2 separate regions of the Homo sapiens genome follow, and region 2 is linked to region 1. The links come from fine-mapping of genetic effects on gene expression. A gene starts in region 1. The other region holds a variant in brackets. All regions are shown on one strand. Distances are from middle to middle. Region 1 holds the start of LINC-PINT (long intergenic non-protein coding RNA, p53 induced transcript). Region 2 overlaps LINC-PINT (long intergenic non-protein coding RNA, p53 induced transcript).

The links. PIP is the estimated chance that this variant, and not a neighbour inherited with it, causes the effect.
Region 2: its variant is the best candidate, but not a certain one, in a credible set for the expression of LINC-PINT in blood mononuclear cells (TOPMed, PIP 0.68).

The regions. Positions count from the first base shown.
Region 1 is chr7:131,107,422-131,111,815 of GRCh38, forward strand. It overlaps LINC-PINT (long intergenic non-protein coding RNA, p53 induced transcript), which reads right to left and starts at 2,504. Exons shown (of 8, transcript NR_170176.1): 1 at 2,316-2,504; 2 at 299-1,382. It also overlaps a transcript of MKLN1 not described here. RefSeq lists silencers at 393-442, 463-522, 2,580-2,629, 2,710-2,859, 4,010-4,069 and enhancers at 505-1,356, 3,751-4,292.
Region 2 is chr7:130,952,356-130,956,749 of GRCh38, forward strand. The region is part of intron 5 of LINC-PINT (long intergenic non-protein coding RNA, p53 induced transcript); the gene reads right to left. Among named protein-coding and RNA genes, the nearest start is that of LINC00513, 41 kb to the left of the region's middle. The variant T/C (reference allele first, on the strand shown) is at 2,026.

The DNA of each region.
Region 1 (4,394 bases):
ACACAAACATGGCGAAATCGCTCTCACAAGCCGGGTTCCCGCGACAGCCCTACCTTCCCCCGCTCGCCTTCCGAACGTCCTGGCCAGGAACCGCAGACCCCTTCCGGGGGACGGCGAGGGGGCCCCGGGCTGAGCGAGGGTGGGCGCACGGGGCGTGCTAAGGGGAAATTGACTAGCCAGCCGATCAGCTCCGCCGGCAGCGGAGGGGACGCCTTCTTCACGCCCTGAGATCGCAAAGGAGAGCAAAATTCCCATCCCAAAGTCCTGCGGGACCGGCTTCCCCACCCGACGAACTTACCCCAGGGCTGAACGCACGCTGCTTTAGCTCCTTGCCTCGTTCCTTCCTCCCGGGCGCGACGCGAGGTGAAAATGATGCGCACGTAGATTTGTAGAGCGTATTCTTGAGAATTTCCCTGGGATGAATCGGGAGGAGCGGTGGAGACTCCGGAGACAGGTGCCGCGCTGGTCTGGGCTGCCGGCTAAAAGTTGTCCTCCGCGCGGTGGGCGGTGGGGTCCCCGGCCAGGGCCAAGGACCCCGGCTCCCTGCCCCCCGGCGTCGCCCACTTGTCACGCCAGGCTGCTGCGTGCACTCGGCTGCAGGGGAGGTGGCGTAGTTTCTCTTCCTCCCACCTCTTCTCACTCACTTGTTTTTGTAGCCGTGGGCTCCCCTAATGCTTTCCTCTCCACAATGTTGTTTCATTATATCATGTCCATCATGTGACACCAGAGAGGCCTCTCTATGGAAACTTAAAGGGGCTCCCACGTGACTGCAGCAGCAACAACAGCAGCAGGACTGGCGGCGGCGGCCGCAGCGGCGTCCGTACCTCCACCCACCGGGAGCCCCTCGAAGCATCCCGGAGGGGCTTCTGGCGCTGCAGGAGCCCCGATCGGGGAGCCACAGCATCCGGGAGCCGTGGTGTCTGTGCGTGCGTGGAGCCTGTGCTCATGACATAGGAAGCCGAACAGAAGGAGCGTCCTCAAATCCTTTCCTACAGTCACCAAACCCACGCTCTGTTAAAATGACATTTCGTGGCTCCTACTTTGTTTCCCCGGAGAGCAATGAGTTTTCTATCAGGCCTGATTTAGTTTGACAAAAGTCAAAAAGAAAAACTGGATTTGTCCCTCTGCGAGTTCAGTCAGATCGCTGGGAAAACAGAAATGACAAAACAATAATAACAGAAATAGAACCAGGCATTTGATACATAATTACCATCACCACGGCTTTCAAGCTTTCTGGAATTACGTTCCTCCAGTAACTGTTGATGATGCTTGCAGGAGGCAAAATGCAATGCAGTTTTTCTCTTCCGCAGCTATATTAGGGCTTTGTTGCTGACAACAGTGAAAACTTGTTTGTGTCAGGAAGTGAGGTACGGAGATATGACCTGGAAGGTACAGACAAAACCAAAGTGGCAGTTTTTGCATTACTTTTCTGACCACATTCTTTCAAATGGTGACAAGAAGGCGGTCTGCTGTAAAATTCGTGGGGTGTTTGATGGGAAACAAAATAATCAGAAAAACATAATTATCCCTAGCCATACCATACTTGCTAGACGCTAGAAAGTATACATATATGTAATCTCTGTATACATAGAGAAAGCAAAAAGCATGTGCACTTTAATATTTTTGAACCACTAATTTTGTCATCATTTGTACCATTAACAAACACTTGGAAAGACTCACTCAAGTCCAGGGATGTGTGGAAACTCACAATGTTGAGTGCTGTGGGTATTACTGACTCACAGTCCCTTAAAGGGTTTGTACCATAAATCCCAAATTTCTGCCTTAAAGTTTTTACAGACATGGAGATTTTATCCTGTAAATCTAAGCCAGATAGCTATTTCTGGGTTTTTTAGTTCATGCTTTTCCATTTTATAAAGGAAACTGTGTGGATTGGCGGAATCAAGAAAAACTTCGCAAGAAACTGAAGAGTGGGATGGAAGATCTTTTCGTTTGGCCTTGCCTTGACTCTGTCTCTCTCCACCTCATCAGTTTACTTCATCAGCCATGATGAATGAGCTCCATTCCAACCCTTCTAATTCTATAATATCTCTCCCAAGTTTTACCTTCCTATCTCATGCCTAATTCTTTTCATCCCTTTCCTCCTACCTCCCTTGCCTCCCAACTCAGCCCCTTTTCTGCCTGGGGGCTCAGCTCGGGCCTCCCCAAAGACTGTACCCCCCACCCTCCCCTGCAGCTACCCCCACCCCCACGCCCTTCCCAGCTCGGCCTCTCTTCTTTGCAACTCTACCTCCTTACCTCTTTTGACCTCTAATCACCTTCACAGTCTGGCCCTTGACTTCTGGGCCTCTTCTTACCTCTCTTTACCTGAAATGTCCTGGCCCTCACTGGGGTCTCCTCCACACCCTTCTCTCTGGTCCCATCCCTTCTGCTGCCAAGCCCCAGCGTTCCTCCGGCTCGGCCTGGTCAGCTTGAGCCTCATTTTGTTCGCGTGCCCCTGGGCTGGGAAAGGAGTGTGTGGTGCACAGTGGGGCCAAGGATCCCCTGGGGCCGCGGCCTCTGCCTCGCCCCCTCCACCCCTCCCGAGTCCCGGTTGCGGCGCTTCCTGGGCGGATGGCTTGAAATTGCTGCAGCAGCTGCGGTTCTGCTGTGTCATGCAAGAAGGAGGCGGCGGCGGCGGCGGCGGCGGCCGGAGCTGGAGGGGGAGGAGGGGAGGAACCTGATCCTCCGGTAGCGAAGGGCTAGAGGCAAACACCGAGCTCCTCCAGAGCCGCCCGGGAGCAGGGAGGGCTCCGCTAGCCCGGGGGGCCCTCCCCGCGGGGCAGATGGTAAGTGGGGCGGTGCAGGTGGTCGCCTTGGGAAGGGAGCGCGCAGGGGGGTAAGGTGGGGCGGCGGGAAGTGCTAGAAGTCACCCCAGCCAAACTGAAGGAGCCCAGTTTCCAGCTGAGAGGGACCCAGGCCGTAATAAGGATGTCCAGCCAAACGCAGCAATAATTACTATTGGAGTGACGCCCCGAAGTTGACCCCAAGCTACACAGAGGGTGGAGTGGTGCATCCTGAACCCAGGACAGAGCTGGAGGCAATGATTCAGGGTTTGAGAAGTATCAGCCCATCGGCCTGGCGCTTTAAGGTGCAGCTGAGTAGGAAAAGCCAACCCACATCATATTCCCAGAGCCTTGCTGCGCTTTCTGGGTTGTCTTGTTCAAAACTAGTGAAAGGGATGGGAAACCTGCCCAACCTCACTTTAGCCACGAAAATAATGCTCTTGGCCAGTGGCCTTGGACAAACAGCCTCTGGTGCAACAAAACAATCAATAGGAAGAAGAACTTCATTCCCCTCACCATCCTCCTTCCCCAAGTTCCTTTGACCAGCATACCTCATTCGGCTTAAAGGAGAAAGAAAACTATGTGTGACATTCCCTCCCAGCCTACCTGCAGCCAGCCTCCTCACCACACAAACTGCCCATCCCGCTTCTCTCCTCATCTTCAGAGCCATGATTCCAAGAGACATTGCAATACTACTCACTTTAGGTGAGAAGACTGCCTGAAACTCTGAACAATTTCACCTCCCTTGCCCTTTGCCACAGGGGATTCAGAAACCTACAACTGAGAGCAGGGAAATATACGGACAGGCTTGGCACGTAGGAACATTACTTCCTTCACTGGAGTGTAGTTCTCCAGACAACTTTTTAATTATGATTATTCCCTTCCATTGCACTCCTGGAAATTTCAAAGCACTTTCTAAAACATCATTTTTTTTATGTCAGTCATACATTTAGAGGTAAGGGGTTGATGGGATTAACTGAAAGGCTAATGACTGTCTCAAAAGCACATGCTGTTGCTAGGGAACCCAAGCTCCTGCTGCTCTCTAATCACCAGCGTGTTCCGTGGAAATCAAACTGCTCAGGGTGTTATTAAAATGAATGGCATCGGGTTAAAGGCATTCTTGCTTATGTTGTAGCATCCTGGATTATTATCGATTGCCTCACACCCACATATCTTGTTTTCCTAATTTGATTTCTGTATTTGCGTCACTGCCAGGGACACTCAGACTAGACCAGTCAGTTCACTTCCTGTTTCTCAGAACTGGTTTATATTTGGTCTCGTAGCACTAGCTGGTAAAACATTATCAAACTGATCCTCTTGGAAAGAAATCTTTGCTTCCCATTGAAAACAAAATATTCCAATTAAATTGTAATTCCTGTGGAAAACGTCATCATTTGAGGAGTAGACTGCCAGTTGCCATTTGAGAAACAATCCTTGAAATGTAAAGCCTAGAAAAAAAAAACATCATCTTGATTTCTTTTACCCAGAATCTTCATTCCTCAGCACTAGAACTAAGACAAACTCGAGTAAAGAGTAGATTTAAGTATACTTCTAAAATGAAACGCATAAATAAATAAATAAATAAATAAATAAATACATGTCGAAGCTGGG
Region 2 (4,394 bases), 160 kb before region 1:
CCTTTTGAGAGAATGGGAATTAAATAACAAAACGTGACCGATTCAGCCAAATGGGGAGTCTATTATGAAGAGTGAGACAGCTGAATCACAGCAGAGTGGAATGCACTTTTGCTTTATATGTTTTTCCTTTACTCATTCCTTTTTTGGTGTTCCTTTATTATAAAGTTAATATATTATTACCAGCCAGCAGTTACATAGTGCTCACTATGAACCAGGCACAGCTCTAAGCCTTTTGTATACTTTAACCCAAACCATGAGGCACGTACTCTTATTCTCCCCATTTAGGGAGAGAGACAAGAACGTCGATTCCTTCGCCGGTGTTCAGTGGCAGAGCTGGTATTCCAATCCAGGCAGCCCAGCCTCAGAGTCCCGCGCTAATCACTTCCCTATACCACCACACCATGAAAGCACCAAATTCAAAGTCCTAAAATTTAGGGTATCAAAAGAGAGCATCACCATTTACTGTACCTTTCTAACAGAATAATTTGGGTGCATTTCCTACTCTATTCAGCCTTTGGTTTCCAAATCAAGGAATCTTTTAAAAGAAAGAAAGTTCTATATTCAAATAAATATGCTCAACCAAACCGTTTACAAAAACCTTTCCAAGTAGAGATTCTACTCATAGACAAGGCTTCTTTAAAATCAGATCTACTTTTGCATACAATATACTTGTTATTAAAACAATTTTTTCCTTTACAAGCATCTTTACATTATGAAAAACATCTTTCTTAAGAGTATTTATTTTTTGTCTGGCCCACATTTCATTATAATAAGTTCCAAATCACTCATTTTTGAATCCACACATATCCAAGTTTTCAGATAAGAAAAGTGAAGTTAATTTTGTTCTTCTTGAAGTCGCCTGCAGGCTCAGGCTAGATCTCACTTTTTATGGTCTATTTCTGTGCAGATAAGAACATCACATTTAACATGGGAATGTTGGAACTTCTGGAGGCTTCAGCAGGGTTAGCTTCAAAAAACAAGCAAAAAATGCCTCCCACCACATACAGCTTCTATCAGTGATCTTTGACATAAATGTTTCACGATATAGAAGTTAAAGAGTATGCCAGTCACTTGAGGGTTGACCAATGTGAACTGTTATTTCCTAGACTTGAGTACATGCCGCATGTGGTCTATATAAACATTCTTTAAGTTCCTTTGAAATAGACCCACACATATATGGAAAACTGATTTTCAAGAAAGGCGCCAAAGCAATTCAATGGAAAAAGGAAAGTCTTTCCAACAATCCATGTTAGAACAACTGGGAAAATGTATGCAAAAATATGAACCTTGACTTCTACTTAACCCCATATATAAAAATCAACTGGAGATAGATCATAAACTAAAGCATAAAAGCTAAAGCTATAAGTCTTCTAACAGAAGGCACAGAGAAATATCTGCACAATCCTGGGGAGGCAGATTACTTAGGAAACAAAAAATACAGATAATATAGAAATCTTTGTTTTAATTTTTAAAAATATATTTTATTTTTTTGTAGAGAGTTGAGGTCTTGCTATGTTACCTAAGCTGCTCTCAAACTCCTGGGCTCAAGCGATCTTCCCCTGCCTTGGCCTCGCAAAGGAAAAACATTTTTGATCAATGAAATTATTTCAAAGTTAAAACCTTCTGCTCATCAAAAGACACTTTTAAAAAACAGCAGGTAGACCATAGACTGGCAAAATATTTGCATTATAAACTTCTGACAAGAATATTTTATTCAGAATATGTATAACATTCCTACCAACCAAAATAATAAGACAATCCAATTTTAAAACAGGCAAAAGAAAAACAGACTCAAACGACTTGAACAGACACTTCAAAAGGGAAGATACACAAATGGCCAATAAGTATATGTGATTCATCTAGAAAATGCAAATTGAAAACTACAATGAGATACTACTTCATATCCAAGAGAACGACTATAAGTAGAAAAACCAGCAATATACAATGTTAAGATACCTGGTCACCTGGAACTTTCATAAATTGCTTGTTGGAGTGTAAAATGGTACGATTACTTTGGAAAATGAC[T/C]TGGCAGTTTCTTACAGAGGTACACATACACCTAGTGTACGGTGCAGCAATTAAACCTAAAAAAGAGTGAGAGTGGGCCAGGTGTGGTGGCTCACGCCTGTAATCCCAGCACTTTGAGAGGCCGAGGCTGGTGGATCATTTGAGGTCAGGAGTTTGAGACTAGCCTGGCCAACATGGTGAAAGCCCATCTCTACTAAAATTTTAAAAATTAGCCAGGTGTGGTGGTGCGTGCCTGTAGTCCCAGCTACTCAGAAGGCTGAGGCAGGAGAATCGCTTAAGCCTGGGAGGTAGAGGTTGCAGTGAGCTGAGATTGCCCCACTGCAGCTCAGCCTGGGTGACACAGTGGGACTGTCTCAAAATAAAAAATAAAAAAAGAAAGAAAAGAAAAAGAGTGAGAGTGAGAGAAAACTCATTCACAGCAGCTTAATATTCATAGTAGCCAAAAATGGGGAAATAATCAATATGTCAGTCAACAAGAGAACAGAGTTTAAAATTGGGTCTATTCATACAATGGAATACCACCCAGCAATAAAGGAAGAATGATACAGACAACTATATAAAACTGTTGCGTGAAAAAAAAAGCCAGACGCAAAAGAGTATATACTGCATGATTCCATTTAGAGGAAGCTCAAGAACAAGACTGCAATGATAGAAAGCAGAAAGTTTTTGCCAGTGAGGGTGGCGAATGACTGAATGGGGCAAGAGGAAACCTGGTGATAGAAACGTTCTCTCTCTTAACTGGGGTCTGGGAACAGGAGTACACTGAATGTCTGTGCATTTCAATGCATGTAAATTTTACATCAATTAAAATGGAGGGATGGTAGGATTTCCTTAATTGTCTTGACATCCCCATGTCCTCCTGAAGAATGCAATTTGATTCGCACACTTAGATCCCATCAAATGGTGCCTGTATCTGGATTACTTCAGTTCACAACTAGCCATGGCTCTCTCTTCTCTGGGGGACCATCCATACAAGGTATTTCCTCCAGAGGAAAAGAAAGAATTTGCTGGTTCTCCTCTCATTCAACAGTAATAGCCAACCAATAGGCCAGGTCCCAGAACCAGTGTGGGAGTGTTCTACATTCTTGCAGTCACAGAATGTTTTTTTTAGGCCCACCATTTTTCAGCAGACATCTGACAATCCACACTCAGAAACATTCTTCATCTCTAGGAAGTTATGCGAAATAGGTGGGAGAAACAAGGTGTGGAAAGGGGGTGTTTGGCATAGGCTGATGATAGATGTTCTGGTCAATACCAGGAATAAAATCCCAAGTGTGTTCTGCTTGCCTGGGAGCTCACACCCTCAGAGCTAAGTAGATTTCACTACTCTCCATCTCTGCTTCCAAGGGCATGGCCTCAGAGGACTTGCTCTTTGATCTAGAACTGTACAGGAGGCTCTAAGCTGGTAAACAACTTACAGGGGTACAGAGGTCAGATAGGAGAAGGCCCTTATGACCCTTACTATCTTCAACTGTCTCTAAGCAGCTACATTAAAAATAGCTAACATCCATCACTATTACTTTGCAAATTTTAGAGATAGATTTTAGCCTCCTAGTATTGTGCTAGAAATGAGGCTAGGCCTGAGAAGAACCTAAAGCTTCCATCATGTTGCAGTAATTGGCCCTAACTGTGGAATACCTCTGAGAAAGATCTCCAGGGATTTTTCACAAAGAAACTGCTTTCTAAGTAAAAGGAGGGAAGCATGAGATGGAAACATCAATTCAGGCTTTCTTCTGACACAAACGGACACCACTTGTGTCACAAAAGTTAAAGAACTAGTCAACATCTTACTTTTCCCATCTTCACAGTGTCTGCTGACACTTTCAGGACCGACCTGACGAACATGACAAAGGGATAATTAACAAGGGTTTGGAGATTTTTTCCACAAAGGAGATGGGAAAAGAGAATGTGAATTGCTTCTTATAAGGAAAAGAAGAGGGAGTATGAGGGTCTATAGCCCAAGAAATAAATAGTACAGAAGGGAAGAATAGGAAATTCTCTCAGAAGCTCTTATGCTAAAGGGCAGGGAAGAAATCAAGCAAGCGTATCCACATTTAATTTGTATTAAGATCAGGAACAAGTACCACTACTTAAAGATTTTTTTAAATGACTAAGTTGGATGTTTTACAAGATGCAACTTTCTTCTAGCAACAAAGCTAAAAGATCCTCTTATGGGGCTCTATGATTAATGGCTATGTCTTTACTGGCTGGAAAGTGTATCTTTGTATAATAGTGTCAGCCCACTGTTTCCTCCCAATCCAGTAATTGTGAGGGTTTGTTTTCCCAAGCCCCAGTACCCACTGCAGTCATCATGCTCCATCTAATCTTTTTCCTGGCTAAATGCCTGACTAAAGGTATTTCCAATTTAC